Homo sapiens: one gene and its partners. The protein of the gene in region 1 purifies or fractionates together with the protein of each later gene. This does not show direct contact. Each region holds a gene or a part of one and is shown in the gene's direction. Other genes may lie near its edges.

What was found. Proteins that work in one complex are often made in the same cells at the same time.
Region 2: the proteins of FNBP1 (region 1) and EML4 fractionate together in Homo sapiens (co-fractionation; one large-scale study listed by BioGRID). This does not show direct contact.
Region 3: the proteins of FNBP1 (region 1) and MYO1E fractionate together in Homo sapiens (co-fractionation; one large-scale study listed by BioGRID). This does not show direct contact.
Region 4: the proteins of FNBP1 (region 1) and DCTN5 fractionate together in Homo sapiens (co-fractionation; one large-scale study listed by BioGRID). This does not show direct contact.

Annotation. Positions count from the first base shown.
Region 1 is NC_000009.12:129,896,227-129,900,484, reverse strand, and holds part of FNBP1 (formin-binding protein 1), read left to right. Parts: coding exon 1-59; intron 60-380; coding exon of another isoform or gene 381-383; coding exon 384-520; intron 521-4,258. UniProt on the Homo sapiens protein: May act as a link between RND2 signaling and regulation of the actin cytoskeleton. Required to coordinate membrane tubulation with reorganization of the actin cytoskeleton during the late stage of clathrin-mediated endocytosis.
Region 2 is NC_000002.12:42,325,903-42,330,008, forward strand, and holds part of EML4 (echinoderm microtubule-associated protein-like 4), read left to right. Parts: intron 1-142; coding exon of another isoform or gene 143-156; exon of another isoform or gene 157-240; intron 241-251; coding exon 252-350; intron 351-2,983; coding exon 2,984-3,114; intron 3,115-3,831; coding exon 3,832-4,106. UniProt on the Homo sapiens protein: Essential for the formation and stability of microtubules (MTs). Required for the organization of the mitotic spindle and for the proper attachment of kinetochores to MTs. Promotes the recruitment of NUDC to the mitotic spindle for mitotic progression.
Region 3 is NC_000015.10:59,205,064-59,209,321, reverse strand, and holds part of MYO1E (unconventional myosin-Ie), read left to right. Parts: intron 1-473; coding exon 474-641; intron 642-733; exon of another isoform or gene 734-1,235; coding exon of another isoform or gene 1,236-2,381; exon of another isoform or gene 2,382-2,479; intron 2,480-3,836; coding exon 3,837-3,922; intron 3,923-4,258. Other genes in the region: LDHAL6B (L-lactate dehydrogenase A-like 6B), read right to left, coding at 1,236-2,381. UniProt on the Homo sapiens protein: Actin-based motor molecule with ATPase activity. Unconventional myosins serve in intracellular movements. Their highly divergent tails bind to membranous compartments, which are then moved relative to actin filaments.
Region 4 is NC_000016.10:23,672,016-23,675,526, forward strand, and holds part of DCTN5 (dynactin subunit 5), read left to right. Parts: 3' UTR 1-3,511. UniProt on the Homo sapiens protein: Part of the dynactin complex that activates the molecular motor dynein for ultra-processive transport along microtubules.

The DNA of each region.
Region 1 (4,258 bases):
GGACTGTACGACAGCCAGAACCCACCCACAGTCAACAACTGCGCCCAGGACCGTGAGAGGTACAGTATCTGCACAGCGCCTGCCTCTGGCAAGGGAGCCTGTTGGCTTTGTATTTATTTCTAAATTTTGGAATCTGGAATGACCATAAGGCACTTGTTCAATGCCAAAATGTCTGTTGCGATTGACCTGTCACTTTTTCCATGATGCAGATTTATAATTCCACATGGGATGGGTGATCTGAGCGTGCGATGATTTACCATGGCCTCAGTTACAGCACTCGCTGAGGGGCGGGGTTGCAAGTGCTCTCCAGTCGCAGGGACTCAATCTGAGTCCTCCCTGGGGTCAGTCGCTTTAGTTGCTTTGTGTTTTCCTTTCTTGAGCAGCCCAGATGGCAGTTACACAGAGGAGCAGAGTCAGGAGAGTGAGATGAAGGTGCTGGCCACGGATTTTGACGACGAGTTTGATGATGAGGAGCCCCTCCCTGCCATAGGGACGTGCAAAGCTCTCTACACATTTGAAGGTGACATTTCATGTCTGCTGGATTCCCCTGCCTTTTATAAACCATAATATCTGAGTTACTCTTCTTTCACTTTTCCTTCCTTCCTTCCTTCTGATCATTTTTATTCCTTTGTCCTTCCTTCCTTCCTTCCTACCTTCCCTTCCCCTTCCCCTTCCCCTTCCCCTTCCTTCCTTCCCTTCCCTTCCCTCCCTTCCCTTCCTTCCCTTCCTTCCCTTCCTTCCTTCCTTCCTTTTTTTCATACAGGGTCTCGCTCTCTTGCCCAAGTTAGAGTGCAGTGGTGCAATCATGGCTCACTGCAGCCTTGACCTCCTGGGCTCAAGTGATCCTCCAACCTCAGCCTCCTGAGTAGCTGGGACTACAGGCAAGCACCACCATGTCCGGCTCATTTTTGTACTTTTGTACTTTTTGTACTTTTCAGTAGAGACAGGGTCTCACTATGTTGCCCAGGCTGGTGTTGAACTCCTGGATTCAAGCAGTACTCCTGCCTCAGCCTCCCAAAGTGCTGTGATCACAGGTGTGAGCCACTGTGCCTAGCCACACTCTTCTCTTTCTGTGACCAGAACTTTCTTTAGAAGCCTTCCAGATCTGGCCGGGCATGGTGGCTCACACCTGTAATCCTAGAACTTTGGGAGGCTGAGGCGGGCAGGTCACTTGAGGCCAGGAGTTCAAGACCAGCCTCGCCAACATGGTGAAATCCCATCTCTACTAAAAATACAAAAACTGGCTGGGCATGCTGGCAGGCGCCTGTAATCCCAGCTGCTCGGGAGGCTGAGGCACGAGAATCACTTGAACCCGGGAGGCGGAGGTTGCAGTGAGCTGAGATAGCGCCACTGTACTCCAGCCTGGGTGACAGAACGAGACTCTGTCTCAAAAAAAAAAAAAAAGCTGCAGCAGCAGCCTTCCAGATCCTTCTCTACTATGCTTTTATCCTACTCATGGTATGATTATTATTTGGTTGTATATTTTGACTTTTGGTTCGTATAACTTAACAGCTTCCAGAGAGCTTGCTTCACTGCAGCAGACGATAGGGAGGATGATCATTTCATCCATTCATTTAATATCTAGTATCTATAGCGCTCCTGTCTTGTAAAGGCCCATGAAGTGGGGGGATGCAGGTCGTATGATATGGCACCTGCCCAGAGGGAAATCAGGCAGACACACTTAAGGAGCAAGCAGCGGCTGGGTGCAGTGGCTCACGCCTGTAATCCCAGCACTTTGGGAGGCCGAGGCAGGCGGATCGTGAGGTCAGGAGATCGAGACCATCCTGGCCAACATGGTGAAACCCCATCTCTACTAAAAATACAAAAATCAGCTAAGCGTGGTAGCGCATGCCTGTAATTCCAGCTACTTGGGAGGCTGAAGCAGGAGACTCACTTAAACCAGGAGTCGGAGGTGGCAGTGAGCCGAGGTCGTGCCACTTTACTCCAGCCTGGCAACAGAGCAAGACTCCCTCTCAAAAAAAAAAAGCAGGCAGTTTGCAGTGTTTGCCAGAAGAGGGATACAGAGGAACGGGGAGGACAGGGGAGAATGAGGTCGCTTCCTTAAGGAAGTTTGGAGAACTTGCCATGGCATGGGGGGTGTGGCCAGAAATGGGTGTGGTGTGGCTGGAGCTTAGATGTCTTAAGTCCTAATAGTGAAATGTGGCACTAAAGAGTGGGAAGTGCCAATGGGGGCGAGGTAGGGAAACATCTGGGTTTTATGTGGCAAACATTGAGGAGCTATGGGAGGTCCCCTAGCAGGGTGTCGATGCAGTCAGAGCTGTACCTTAGGAAAGTCATCGTCAGATGTGTAGGATCCACTGGAAGACATGGAGGATGGTTAGAAAGACTAGCCCAGGCCGGGCATGGTGGCTCACGCCTGTAATCCTAGAACTTTGGGAGGCTGAGGCAGGCAGATCACCTGAGGTCAGGAGTTCTAGACCAGCCTGCCCAACATGATGAAACCCCGTCTCTACTAAAAATACAAAAATCAGTGAGGCGTGGTGGCGGGCGCCTGTAATCCCAGCTACTCGGGAGGCTGAAGCATGAGAATTGCTTGAACCCAGGAGGCAGAGGTTGCAGTGAGCCAAGATCGTGCCATTGTACTCCAGTATGGGCAACAGAGGGCAACTCTGTCTCAAAAAAAAGAAAGAAAAGATAAACTAGCTTAGTGTTTCTAAACCAATGAACCTTGAAACGATGTCCTGCAGAGCGTTAATAAGGAGGCCATGAAAGAAGCTCTCAGGCCAGGCTCAGTGGCTCACACCTGTAATCCCAGCACTTTGGGAGGCTGAGGCCAAGAGTTCAGGGCTACAGTGAGCTATGATCGTACCACTGCACTCCAGCCTAGGCGATAGTGTGAAACCCTCTCTAAAAAATAAATAAATAAATAAATAAAATTACGAAAAAGTTGCATTTTAATATAATGAATAAATTTTTAAAACTAGCAATCAGAGCTCAAGTAAGTTTGGGAAGCCCTGGGATAAATAAATTTTACAGATTTCTTTACTACAGGACTTTTCAGAGCCTTTAATAGACTAAATGTTCATTGTGACAAAATAAGAAAGACGTACCAGTTTAAACGTTCCCAGTTTTACTTCATATTCCAACCATCCCCCACCGTACCCTGTTGCCCTGTTAACAGCTCCCTAAACTCTTTGCCTTGCAGAAAACTGGGGGGTGGTGGGCAGCCTTTGAAATGATCCTAGCAGAAGGTCTTGGGGGCCTTGTTCAAGGAATGGATACAGAGATGCCGCCATTGACAAACTGCATATATTCGGGGCTGATCAAAAGCCAGGAACAAAAAGGAGAGGAAATCCAAGACGGCTCCCAGAGTTGCATTCCTGGGAGGACAGAGAGGTCTAGGGAAGTGGAAAAGCAGGAGGATATAGTTAGGAGGAAGAACAGTGAATCCAGGTTCATCTATGTTGTTTCAGGTGTTGGGGCCATGTCTAGGTGGCAGTGTGCTGCAGACAGTGGGAAAAGTGGAATCTTGGCTGCAGAAAGTACCAGAATGGAAGCAATATGTGAGGACAGTGTTTAAAGAGGAGCAGTTGGGCCGGGCGTGGTGGCTCACGCCTGTAATCCCAGCGCTTTGGGAGGCCGAGGCGGGTGGATCACCTGAGGTCAGGAGTTCAAGACCAGCCTGACCAACATGGTGAAACCTCGTCTCTACTAAAAATACAAAATTAGCCGGGCGTGGTGGCACATGCCTGTAATCTCAGCTACTCGGGAGGCCGAGGCAGGAGAATCACTTGAACCCGGGACAAGTGGCATCACACTCCAGCCTGGGCAACAGAGCAAGACTCTGTCTCAAAACAAACAAACAACAACAACAAAAAAATTGGGAGGCTGAGGCTGGTGGATCACCTAAGGTCAGGAGTCAGACCAGCCTGACCAACATGGTGAAACCCCATCTCTACTAAAAATAGAAAGGTTAGCCGGGTGTGGTGGTGCACACCTATAGTCTCAGCTGCTCGGGAGGCTGAGACAGGAGAATCGCTTGAACCGGGGAGGTGGAGGTTGCAGTGAGTTGAGATTGCACCACAGCACTCTGGCCTGGGCAACAAGAGCAAGACTCCATCCCCCACAACCCCCCCAAAAAATAACAGACAAAAGAGAAGCAGTTGGAGCCACGAGGGTACCTTTCTCCTGAGAGAGATCCAAGTGAGACAGAAGAAGACTAGAGAAGAGAACCAAAGATTTATCCAGTGAGAAATACTTACCATTCTGGGAGGGAGGAGAAAGAGGGCCCTGGAGG
Region 2 (4,106 bases), on another chromosome or scaffold:
GGCAGGGAGGAATATGATAGATGGGCATTTATGCTTTTTAGAGGAAAAAAAAAACTTCCATGGGAAACAGTTTGTAGTTTTATAAACCCTGTTAAAGTGAACACTTTCTTTTCCTTTTTAAATGTGTCTTAATGTTTTTCAGTGTATGGATTATAAATACAAGTAAACGTGGCTAGTTTGAATCAAGATGCACTTTCAAATACATTTGTACACAAGCACTATGATTATACTTCCTGTTTCTAAATTTAAAGGGGACATTCCAAATGGCTGCAAACTAATCAGGAATCGATCGGATTGTAAGGACATTGATTGGACGACATATACCTGTGTGCTAGGATTTCAAGTATTTGGTAAGGAAATGACACCTGATGTAAAGAAGTGGTTTGTGGGTTTTTTATATATAATATTTACTTGCTTAAATTTATAAATGAAAAATAGTCTGTGTATTCTTTAGCTTTATCACTATTAATGTCAGCCTCAGAGAAATTAAATGTATTAGGATTGAACCAACATGGGATTTGTATTTTGCAGAATCAAGCACTTTTGGTCCTTAATATGAAAGACAAGGAATTTACATAGTAGTACAGATTACCTTCCCGTTTTTCTTTAAGTGAAAATTGAAGTTATTAAATTTGGAAAGGCATTTTTAAATAGCTTGAGATACATGCCATACAATTCACCTAAAGTGTAAAATTCAGGCTGGGCGCAGTGGCTCACACCTGTAATTCTAGCACTTTGGGAGGCCGAGGTGGGCAAATCACCTGAGTTCAGGAGTTCGAGACCAGCCTGGCCAACATGGTGAAACCCTGTCTCTGCTAAAAATACAAAAATTAGCTGGGCGTGGTGACGTGCACCTGTAATCCCAGTTACGTGGGAGGCTGAGGCAGGAGAACTGCTTGAACCTGGGAGGCAGAGGCTGCAGTGAGCTGAGATTGTGCCACTGCACTCCAGCCTGGGTGACAGAGTGAGACTCCAGCTCATAAATAAATAAAGTGTAAAATTCAGTGGTTTTTGTATACTTAGTTGTGTGACCATCAAGGTCTAATTTTAGAACATTTTCATTACCCCACAAAGAAACTCTGTACCCATTAACAGTTACCCCATCTCTCTTATCCTCTACCCCACCCCCCAGCAACCACTAATCTGTTATTGATTTGCCTTTTCTGTATAGTTTATATAAGGGGAATCATACAATATTTGATCCACTGAGACTAGCTTCTGTGATTTAGCATAACGTTTTCAAGGTTTATCCACGTTGTAGCATACATCAGTACTTTACTCTTTTTATGGCTGAGTAATATCCCATTGTATGGATAGATGACATTTTGTTAATTCATTCATCAGCTGATGGACACTTGGGCTGTTTCTACTTTTCAGCTATTATGAATACCACTGCTGTGAACAGTCATGTGCAGGTTTTTGTGTAGACATGTTTTCATTTCTCTTGGGTATTTACCTAGGAGTAGAATTGCTGAGTCAAATGGTAACTGTATGTTTACTCTTTTGAGCAACTGCCAGACTGTTTTCCACAGTGACTACATTTACATTTCCACCAGCAGTGTACGAGGGTTCTGGTTCCTCCATGTCCTTGTCAGTGTATTTTATTATTATTTTGCGTGTGGATGTCTAGTTGCCTTACACCACTTGTTGAAATACAAAGGCATTTTTAGGAGAATTATATAAAGATAACTATGTGGGGCTTCTTCCTAATCTGACGTTTTGTAACTTTCTGGAAATCCGACCTCTATGACTGTTTTCTAAGCCTTCCTCAGTATTTAGGTATCCTTCTGAAAGGGTTAGAAGATAGATGGAAAAGTTAAAATAATAAAGCGTTATTTGCAAAGAATTAAAAAGAAGTGTTATGCTCAGGTAATTAAAATACTGGATATGGATGTGGCACCAATACCTAAAGCAATACACAAAAATTAATATTTTCTCTTTAACAATTTATCTCTGCCTTCTGAAAATTGGGTTCTCCAGCCTGATCATAGATCTGAACATTTCTTTATGCTATGTGCATTAGGAAAATAATCCATTATAGGTGGTTGTTCTAAACACAAGTGCTATCAAGACAGAGAAGCCTAATAGGCCAGGAAGGAATTAAAAACAAAATAATTCTGTCCATAAACAATTTCATTATTCTACGTGAAAATGAAGCAGTGACCCATAGCTGGTAGCTTCTGTGGTTATTTTAATGAAGACATTATTTATTTAAATTATTAAGAGAGACCAATTTTAAAGTATTTTGACTTGTTTTTAGCAAATTTACCAAAAACATATTTGTTCTCTAGAGTAGCATTCAACCACAAGTGGCCAACATCTCAACCCTTAAATCTTCCATAGTTTCAATCTAGCCTAATAGAGGTTTGTGAAAATTATGTTCGACATGATCATTAGTGCTGCATAATGATTCAGAATAATTAAATTTGACGTGTCTTATCTTGGGACATAATCTTTCCAGGAAAATTACATGGGATAGCATGCTAAACTAGTGGATGGCCTATGCTTTCTAAAAGAAATAATCTCTCTGAGGTTTTCTTGGAGGTGCTTGCCTGAAAGAAAACCTAGACTCCACTTCGAAGACTTGGTGTTATGGCTTTGTTTTTGAACCTTGTCTATACAAGTAACTGATTCCCTCCATCCAGAAACTTTAAAAAGGAAGAGCTTATTGCTGAGGTGTAAGTCAAGCTGAAAGTAAAATAAATTATTAGCACCACCTGCTGGTTACCATTGAGTACCATTGAGTCTTTAAGTTTTCCATTTTGGGGCTATTTTGGTTTTTTATTAGTTAGATTTTGGACAGGACTTGATTTGAATGAAGAACAGTGTGAGCCACTGAGAAATTTGTAAAGGAAATGTTAACAGCTAAGAGTTTGAACATAGATAAAAGCTAAACAGATTCTAAAATAAAATAAACATATATAGCATCACAGTTATATTTCTTCAGCTAATTTTTCTGCATCCCTGTGTTTCCATATCAAAGGTGTCTGGCCAGAAGGATCTGATGGGACAGATATCAATGCACTGGTGCGATCCCACAATAGAAAGGTGATAGCTGTTGCCGATGACTTTTGTAAAGTCCATCTGTTTCAGTATCCCTGCTCCAAAGCAAAGGTAAACTCACTTTAATAGAAACTAATGTTATAAGGCCTTCTGTCCAGGGATGATTTTGCATCCATAGCAAGAAAATATAGGTTACTGATTCCTCTCCATGATACTCCAGTGCACAGAGGGAGATAAGGGCCATCGGTGAGCATCCATCCAGGCAGTGCTTGTCTTCTCCCCCTTCCTAAGGCTAAGGAGAAGTGAGCTGTAGAAATGACGACCGATGATGTTATTCCTGTTTCTTTATTGTCCGGTTGCTTTTTATTTTGATTTGTTGGCAATTTAAAATCTCTCCTAAATATTTTAAAATATTTTATTTGTTGGATACATATTCAACGTTATAAAACTAATGGAACTGTTTCCCGAATGTCCTGTAATCCTACCAACATAGTAAATGTTCCCCTAACCATTTCAGAAGAATAATTACTAAGCTCTGGCAAGTATACGACCAACATCTAGAAGAGACAGACTTTTAGCTATTTTTTTAAACATATAGTGTGAAAATACAGAGATGTCCAATTCTTCTGTTTCGTTTTTCCTATGTAAAGTGATAATAAAAGGAAATAACGGCTAGCCTTACTCCTGAGATTTGATGACTTCTGGCTTTAAATTGGATTGCCCATTTCACAAGCTGAGTTTACCCCCCTTACGTATCACCTCCATTTCTGAAACAGGCATGTCAAGAATGAGTTTAATTTTCCTGTCTGTCTGATTTATTTCATATAGGCTCCCAGTCACAAGTACAGTGCCCACAGCAGCCATGTCACCAATGTCAGTTTTACTCACAATGACAGTCACCTGATATCAACTGGTGGAAAAGACATGAGCATCATTCAGTGGAAACTTGTGGAAAAGTTATCTTTGCCTCAGAATGAGACTGTAGCGGATACTACTCTAACCAAAGCCCCCGTCTCTTCCACTGAAAGTGTCATCCAATCTAATACTCCCACACCGCCTCCTTCTCAGCCCTTAAATGAGACAGCTGAAGAGGAAAGTAGAAT
Region 3 (4,258 bases), on another chromosome or scaffold:
GAATGTGTAAAACATGAGGAATGCTTATAAAATAGTGCTATGTGAAAAAGGAAATGCATTATAGAATGTGTACACTAAATAACTACCGAAATGATGCCTATATGGGTAACACGCTGAAAGAGAACATTAAGAAATAGATTAGGTCAAAGGAAAATGTTTTTACTTTTGGATTCTTAAGCAAGTCAATTTGGCATGACTATGAGTGAGCAGATAATGATCTGTGCATGACTCTTGGATAAAACTTCAGGGAGTTAAACAGCTTTTTGGAAAGTGGAGTTTCCTCCCTCTTTAGATCTAAGTGGTGACTCCCTATTTGGGACTATTAATTGCATTCTTGCCTGAAGGGGAATACTGACTTTCAAGATGGTATCTTAAGTCTGGGGAGCTGTTTCCTTGCCTAAGAAAGGACCTGATAAGCATTGTCTGTTTTGGAGAGGTCAGTGACTAGGGCCTTGCCTTCTTGCTCCCATCAGAACCCTCCTGGCATCATGAGCATCCTGGATGACGTGTGCGCCACGATGCATGCGGTGGGTGAGGGGGCAGATCAGACGCTGCTCCAGAAACTTCAGATGCAGATTGGGAGTCATGAGCACTTCAACAGTTGGAACCAAGGCTTCATCATTCATCATTATGCTGGGAAGGTATGGCCAATATCCATTTTAATGTCTATCTGTTTTAAGCCTTTGGGTTTGTGATCTGGTTTCTCATGAAGCAAATCATATGGCTCGCCGTATTTTATTGATTCAACAAACGGAATTTATTAACTATCAAAGGAAGCAAAACAAAAGATTGTATATACTACTGCATTTTTTTGTATGTACATTTATTTTTACATTGTAGAAGAAGCTACTACTTTTTTACAGCATATAAATGAACATAGGTATAAACCAGCAAGAATGAAAGAAATAGCATATATCTAATGAAAAGAGTCGGAATTTCTAGAACACAATAAATACCTACATCCTACTTTTTGGGAACCAAATGCCAACTACATATATATAACATGGCAAGTGCTGCTACATCAGAGGTACCAAAAATACTTAGGAATTGTAAATAAGTATCGTCCAGCACGTGGATGCTCAATAAAAGAGCTGGAGGACTAAATAAATAGGAAAATCACTCTACCTACTTTCCTGTTTCCATCTTTTAGGAATTCAAGTTTATTCAAAATTTCGTTATATAATCCTGTATCTATGATCTCTTCAATAATTTCGGAATGGTAGTTTTAGGCAACTTTAAAGCTTAAGCTTATTCTGAATTTCCCAGAGTGTTTTTGCACTTTTTTTCAGATGGGCCTCTTCTTCAGGGGTCAGCTTTATCTTTATAAGGTTGGTAATACCGTTCTCTCCCAGGATACAAGGAATACTGAGGAATACTTCTTCATCTATTCCATAGAGGCCCTTAATTATGGTGGAAACTGGATGTATTCTCCTAAGATTCTTCAAAATACTTTCTGTTAAATCGGCCACAGATAGGCCAATGGCCCAAGAAGTATAACCTTTCATTTTAATAATCTCATAGGCAGTTGCAGTCACTTCTTTGTGGACATTTTTCCATTGCTCAGGATCTTTATCAGTTCCTATATCAGAGTTCAGATCCTTCAAAGGGACACCAGCTATGTTCACTCCACTCCACACAGGAACACTTGAGTCTCCATGCTCTCCGAGGATCCATCCATGGCAGCTTTCAGAATGGATACCAAGCTTTTGTCCAATCAAGAAACGAAAACGAGCAGTATCCAGATTACAGCCGCTTCCAATAATACGGTTTTTGGGAAATGCACTCAACTTCCAAGCTACATAAGTTAAGATATCCACTGGATTGGAAACAATAATCAGTTTGCAGTGGGGGCTGTACTGGACAATACTGGAAATCATTAACTTGAAGATGGCCACATTTCGCTGGACTAAATTAAGGCGCGTTTCTCCCTTTTCTTGGCGTGCACCTGCTGTGATAATCACTAGGTTGGAGTTTGCTGTGACAAAGTAATCTTTGCTACAAACAATATTTGGCATTTTCGTGAAAGGGCTGCCATGTTGAAGATCCATCGTCTCACCCTTCAGTTTGTCTTCATCAAGATCCACAAGGGCAAGTTCATCACTCAAGCCTTTTAATAAGATGCTGATAGCGCAGGCCATGCCCACCGATCCAGTTCCTATGATGGAGACCTTACTGTGATGAACGGGCTTCTCGGAAGTGAAACGCTCAATAAGCTCACTCTTCACAGTCGCCATCTTGCTCACGGGGGTGAAGAGCCAGGTGCCGTTGAGCGGGATGCGCGTTGCTTGACGCGGACACAGGGCCATCCCCAGGCATAGGAAATTCGCTCCCACCGAGCTCACTCTCTGGCTGGCCCGCACAACAGGCACAGTCCAACTCATGGCTGCTCACTGAAGAAGTGGAGAGAGAGAATGGAAAAAAGCTGCTGATCCGAACGTTGAGACGCCAAGAGAGCCGTTGGCAGGACCTTCAGCACTCTACGGCAGGTGCGCGTGCCCCGCCCCCTGGCCCTCTACTGCGGCTGCGCGGGCCTTGCCAGAGTCTCCGACACGTGCTTTCCGTGGGTGCTCAGACTAAGGCAGTGAAGGGCTGCTTCTCTAGCAAGTGATTTCTGGAGTTAGTTTTGCTAAGAGTATTATCAATAGTTGACATGCTTAAGAGGCTAACCGAGATCCCTGGAATTACTAGTTTTTTATTTTTAATATGAATGCTGAGGAAACATGCTTCTGTTAACTACAGATGAAAATAAGGTTACGTTTTCTGAACCGTGACCCTGCCAGGAAGGATAGGGCTCTATGCTTTGCGTACTGGTGGCTGCCTGCACCATCTCCCAGTGTCCCAGAATTGGGCGCCTGCTTTCTGGTCTATGGCGCTGGAGGCCTATTTTGAAAGGATTCCACTGCCTTGGTGCCAGTCCTGGCCAGGACCCACCCTGGGACAGTCGGCTGGGGCTTCAGCAGGGTAGGGGCCGGCTGGGAGTCACTCCAGCACTAAATCTCAGCATACTACTGCATATTTTTGGAAAATGAATCACCCTGCTACATGTATTAGCTGCTGAATAAATGGATTTTCGTCTTGCCTCTTGCTGGAATCACAGACTGGCATTCCTTGTCTCCCCATGCCTACTGGTAGTATAAATCAAGGCCCAGAGTGCACTTTTGGTGTTCTTATAAAGCCCATCAGTATTGGGTGCCTACTGGATGCCAGGCTGTGTGGGGCTGCTGATGATAAAAAAGTTAAGTTGAGGTCGTGGTCTTGGGGACTTCCTAGTGCTATGGAAATCCCCTGGTCTCATCCATCATCCCAGCTGATCTCTTGTTAAACAGAGTATCTGAGCATGAGTTTCTGGCCAGATTGGTGCAACTTTGATACCACTTCTGGGAGAAACTGCAAAGCCTCAGATGACATGGCTCATTGCAGTGAATTACTGAGCATGAGGGGCTTCACTTTTGCTCTGGCTTAGCTAAAATTTAGGAAAAGTATTGAGTATGTCACTTAGACACCCCTATGGATCCACTGAAGAAGGGGTATGGGGACTTGAGAGCTGGAGTTCTGATTACGGATCAGCTGGGCCATCCAGGCAGCCAGATACTCATCAGCATCTGCAGGCCTTCCCCACTAAGTCAGCTAACAAGTAAGACGTGCACAGCCTTCCTGTGACAGTGCACAATGAAATCCCAAATGCAACATCTGGAAATCCACATGTTGTGGTGAGGGTAGCCATGACAGCTTTGGTTTTTTGTTTGGTGAAATTAGATTTTTTGTTCAATAAATGATTTTGTTCAATTAATTACATTTTGTTCAATGAAATTCGATTTCTTTCCATTCTTGGCCAGGTATCCTATGACATGGATGGCTTTTGTGAAAGGAACCGGGATGTGCTTTTTATGGATCTCATCGAGCTTATGCAGAGCAGCGAGCTGTAAGTATGTTTTGCCATAGCTGACAGGGGATATAGGTTTGATGAAATTTTCAATATGAAAACAAACTTATGAGCTGGGTGTGGTGGTGTGTTCCTATAGTCCCAGCTACTCAGGAGGCTAAGGCAGGAGGATCACTTGATCCTAGGAGTTTGAGGCTGCACTGAGCTGTGATCACTCCTGTCAATAGCCACTGCCCTCCAGCCAGGCAACATAGGAACACTGTGTCTCTAATAAAGAAAAAAACAAAAACAAAACAAAACACCTGTGATGTTTAGTGGTTAGCATTTTGTTCCTTCATGCTATTGGGTCTGGATTATCATTTAATCTATTTGGTT
Region 4 (3,511 bases), on another chromosome or scaffold:
TGTGCCATTTCAGCTGCATTCATCTCAGTTGGTGTTGTCTGCTGGCTGCTCTTTCTGATTTCCCACAGGAGCAGTAAGAACCTGAGGAAGAGTAGGGTCAGAGGAGTCTGGGAGAATGAGGAAATATGAGAGCCCCAGGAACTGAAAAGGCCTGTGAGAGACTCTGAGCTTCCTGGGAACAGGTATAGGTTCTTTTTATTTCAATAATAACAGAAACAACTGTCAAAACCATGTGCCTGTACTATTTGGAGTGCTGTCCTTGCAGAATCTCATTATAAGAACCTTAGGAAATAGGCACATCATCTCCTGGATAGAATCCTAGGAAATGGGCACTATAATGGGCACTTTATCCCATTTTATAAACATGGAAATTGAGGCACAGAGAGATTAAGTACTTTCCCAAGGTCATACAGCTAGTGATGGAGGAGCTAGCATTTGAACCCGGAGTTTTTAGTCTATTGAGTTTAACCGACAGATCATACTGTGTTTTGGTAGGGAGGGAGGGAGGAAGCAAGCAAGTGAACAAATGAGTCTGGGATTTAGGACTTGCCAGACAAACAAGGCCCAAGAGGCAAGTGTGCAGGTGGGTGTAGTTGGGAGTCAGCAGAGTTGGGTTGGAATTCAAGCTTTGCCACCTGCTGGCTATAAACCTTGGTTGGGTAAGTAACCCAAGGTAAATGAGATCATCTCTGTAAAACTCTTAGCCTTGTGCCTGGCACATAGTAAATGCTTAATAAGGGTTCACTGTTAGTATTACTGTTACTGATAACATACAAATAGATTGTATTAATGGACCATAATTGCAACTGTATAAAACAAATTCCATGTTTGGCCAGGCGCAGTGGCTCAAGCCTGTAATCCCATCACTTCGGGAGGCCGAGGTGGGCAGATCACGAGGTCAGGAGATCAAGACCATCCTGGCTAACACAGTGAAACCCCATCTCTACTAAAAATACAAAAAAATTAGCCAGGCATGGTGGCGGGTGCCTGTATTCCCAGCTACTTGGGAGGCTGAGGCAGGAGAATGGCGCGAACCCAGGGGGCGGAGCTTGCAGTGAGCTGTAATTGTGCCACTGCACTCCAGCCTGGGCGACAGAGCGAGACTCCGTCTCAAAAAAAAAAAAAAAAACCACAACAACAACAACAAAAATTCCATGTTGACAAGGATGGGAATATGAGAACATGGAAACAGCTATGAAAAGACATAAGAGAATTAGGAGGATTTTCTTTAATATATCATTTTTTAAAAAAAAACTTGCTTGTATTTGTTTATTTTTTAAATAGAGACAGGGTTTTACCATGTTGCCCAGACTAGTCTTGAACTCCTGGGCTCAAGCGATCTTGGCCTCCCTAAGTGCTGGGATTACAGTCATGAGCCACTGTGCCCCGCCATTTTTTAATAAACCTTTCTAATGGAACAAGTAAAACACATGCAGTGGATGCTCAGCAGGCCTTGAGTGTGTGAATGAAAAATATTTGAACTTGTTTTTACTGGTTGATTTCATTGCTTAAAAAACATACCTTAGCTGGACGCAGTGGCGTGCGCCTGTAGTCCCAGCTACTCATCTCTTAAAAAAAAAGTTTTATGCTTGTTAATTTCATAAATGCTAGAGGGATCACCCTAATCAAATAAAGCTACTCAAAAATAAAATATGAAAGGTGTTAGTGGGATACAGCTTTCTAGTTTTTTGCCACTAGTGGATAGGTTGGAATTTAAATTCTTCGGATATTGGAACCAGAACAGGCTGTAACTGATTATTTTTGCTGTGATTCGTGCTTACTGGAGCCTCGGGAAAGAGGGAGACAACATGTAAAGAGAAGCAATCTGTTTGGAAAATGAAAATACAGTTAAATTGCTAATGAACCCTTGTCAAAATCAAATGTCTCCCCTTAGAGGCTGATGATTGTCTAGTCTAATATGCATTTTTTTTGAGTGGGTCAATTGGACTCTAAGACCAACAAGATAAAAAGGCAGCCTTGCATGTCACTTGGACCACAGCTGTCTGGCCATGCAGCATGCCTTCACTGCTGCTGAAGAAAAGCAGCTGCTTGTTGAGAATCTCAAATTCTCAGATCCTAATTGCCTGGCCCTGACTCTAAGCTGAAACCTGCTACTGTCTGCCTTGAGCTGTTTTAGCCTCAACACGAGCTATGCTGAACTGAAAGCAGGCACAGGCTCAATGACCAGGACTCAGACGTTGGGGCCGTTGGAGATTAAGGACCCCCTCCGTGGAGCGCTAAACTATGAAAACGTCCTGGAACCTGGCTGAAAAGGGCTTATTCTCTAATGGGACCATCTAAGATCAAGCTGCTGATAGGCTCTTTGTCTCTAATACAGAGGCTAATTGCATTCCTAACTTCTAATATTTGCCAAACGCTCCAAGCTGGGGAAGGGCACATCGCAAGGACTATGACCTCTCCTCCTGCTTTTGACAGACCAGACTCAAACCTTCTCTGGGGCTTCTCTCACTGCTGTTGACTTGTTGCATTCAGCTTTTGGGATTAGTTGCAGCTTGCAACAGTGGACTGACAGCCTGACTCTACTTCCCTCACTTTTCTCCCAGCACACACAGCTTAGTAAGGTAGGTGGATTATTAAAACGTAGCTGTCCCCAGAAAGGTATTAGGCTTTTCTAGTCTGCTCATTGAATAATCAGGACAAAAGGGGTAGAAGATTATGTAAACACATTTTGAAATTTTTAAAAATTCAGGGTTTCATCCTTTATTAGTTTGCTAAGGATACCATAACAAAGTACCACAAACTGAGTGACTTACACAATAGAAACTTATTTTCCTGCAGTTCTGGAGGCTGAAAGTCCAGGACAAGGTGTCGACAGCTTTAGATTCTTCTGAGGCCTCTCTGCTTGGCTTGCAGATGGCTGCCTTCTTACTGTGTCCTTGTATGGTCCCTCTGTCTGGGTGTCTGTGTCCTAATCTTCTCTTTTAATAAGGATACCACTCAGGTTGGATTAGGGCCCATCCTAACAATCCCATTTTAACTTAGTTACCTCTTCAGGGCCTATCTTCAAATATACTCACATTTTGAGGTACAGGTAGATGGTTAGGGCTTCAGCATGAATTTTTGTGGGGACATAATTCAACCCTCCACACATAATTACCAATTTCTGAATGTCTTTCTGGTTAAGTTGCATAAAAACGTTTATCTACTTGAACTCTAGGATGATAGTTAAAAAAAAAAATGTTGGCCAGGCGCAGTGATGGATGCATATGATCCCAGCACTTTGGGAGGCCGAGGTGGGCAGATTGCTTGAGTTCAGGAGTTCAAGACCAGCCTGGCAACATGGTGAAATCCTGTGTCTACAAAAAATGCAAAAATTAGCTGGACATGATGGCATGTGCCTTTGGTTCCAGCTACTTAGGAGGCTGAGGTAGGAGGATGGCTTGAGCCCAGGAGGCGGAGGTTGCAGTGAGCCAAAATCGTGCCACCGCACTCTAGCCTGGGCAACAGAGCCAGACCATATCTCAAAAAAAAAAAAAAAAAAGTTTATCTA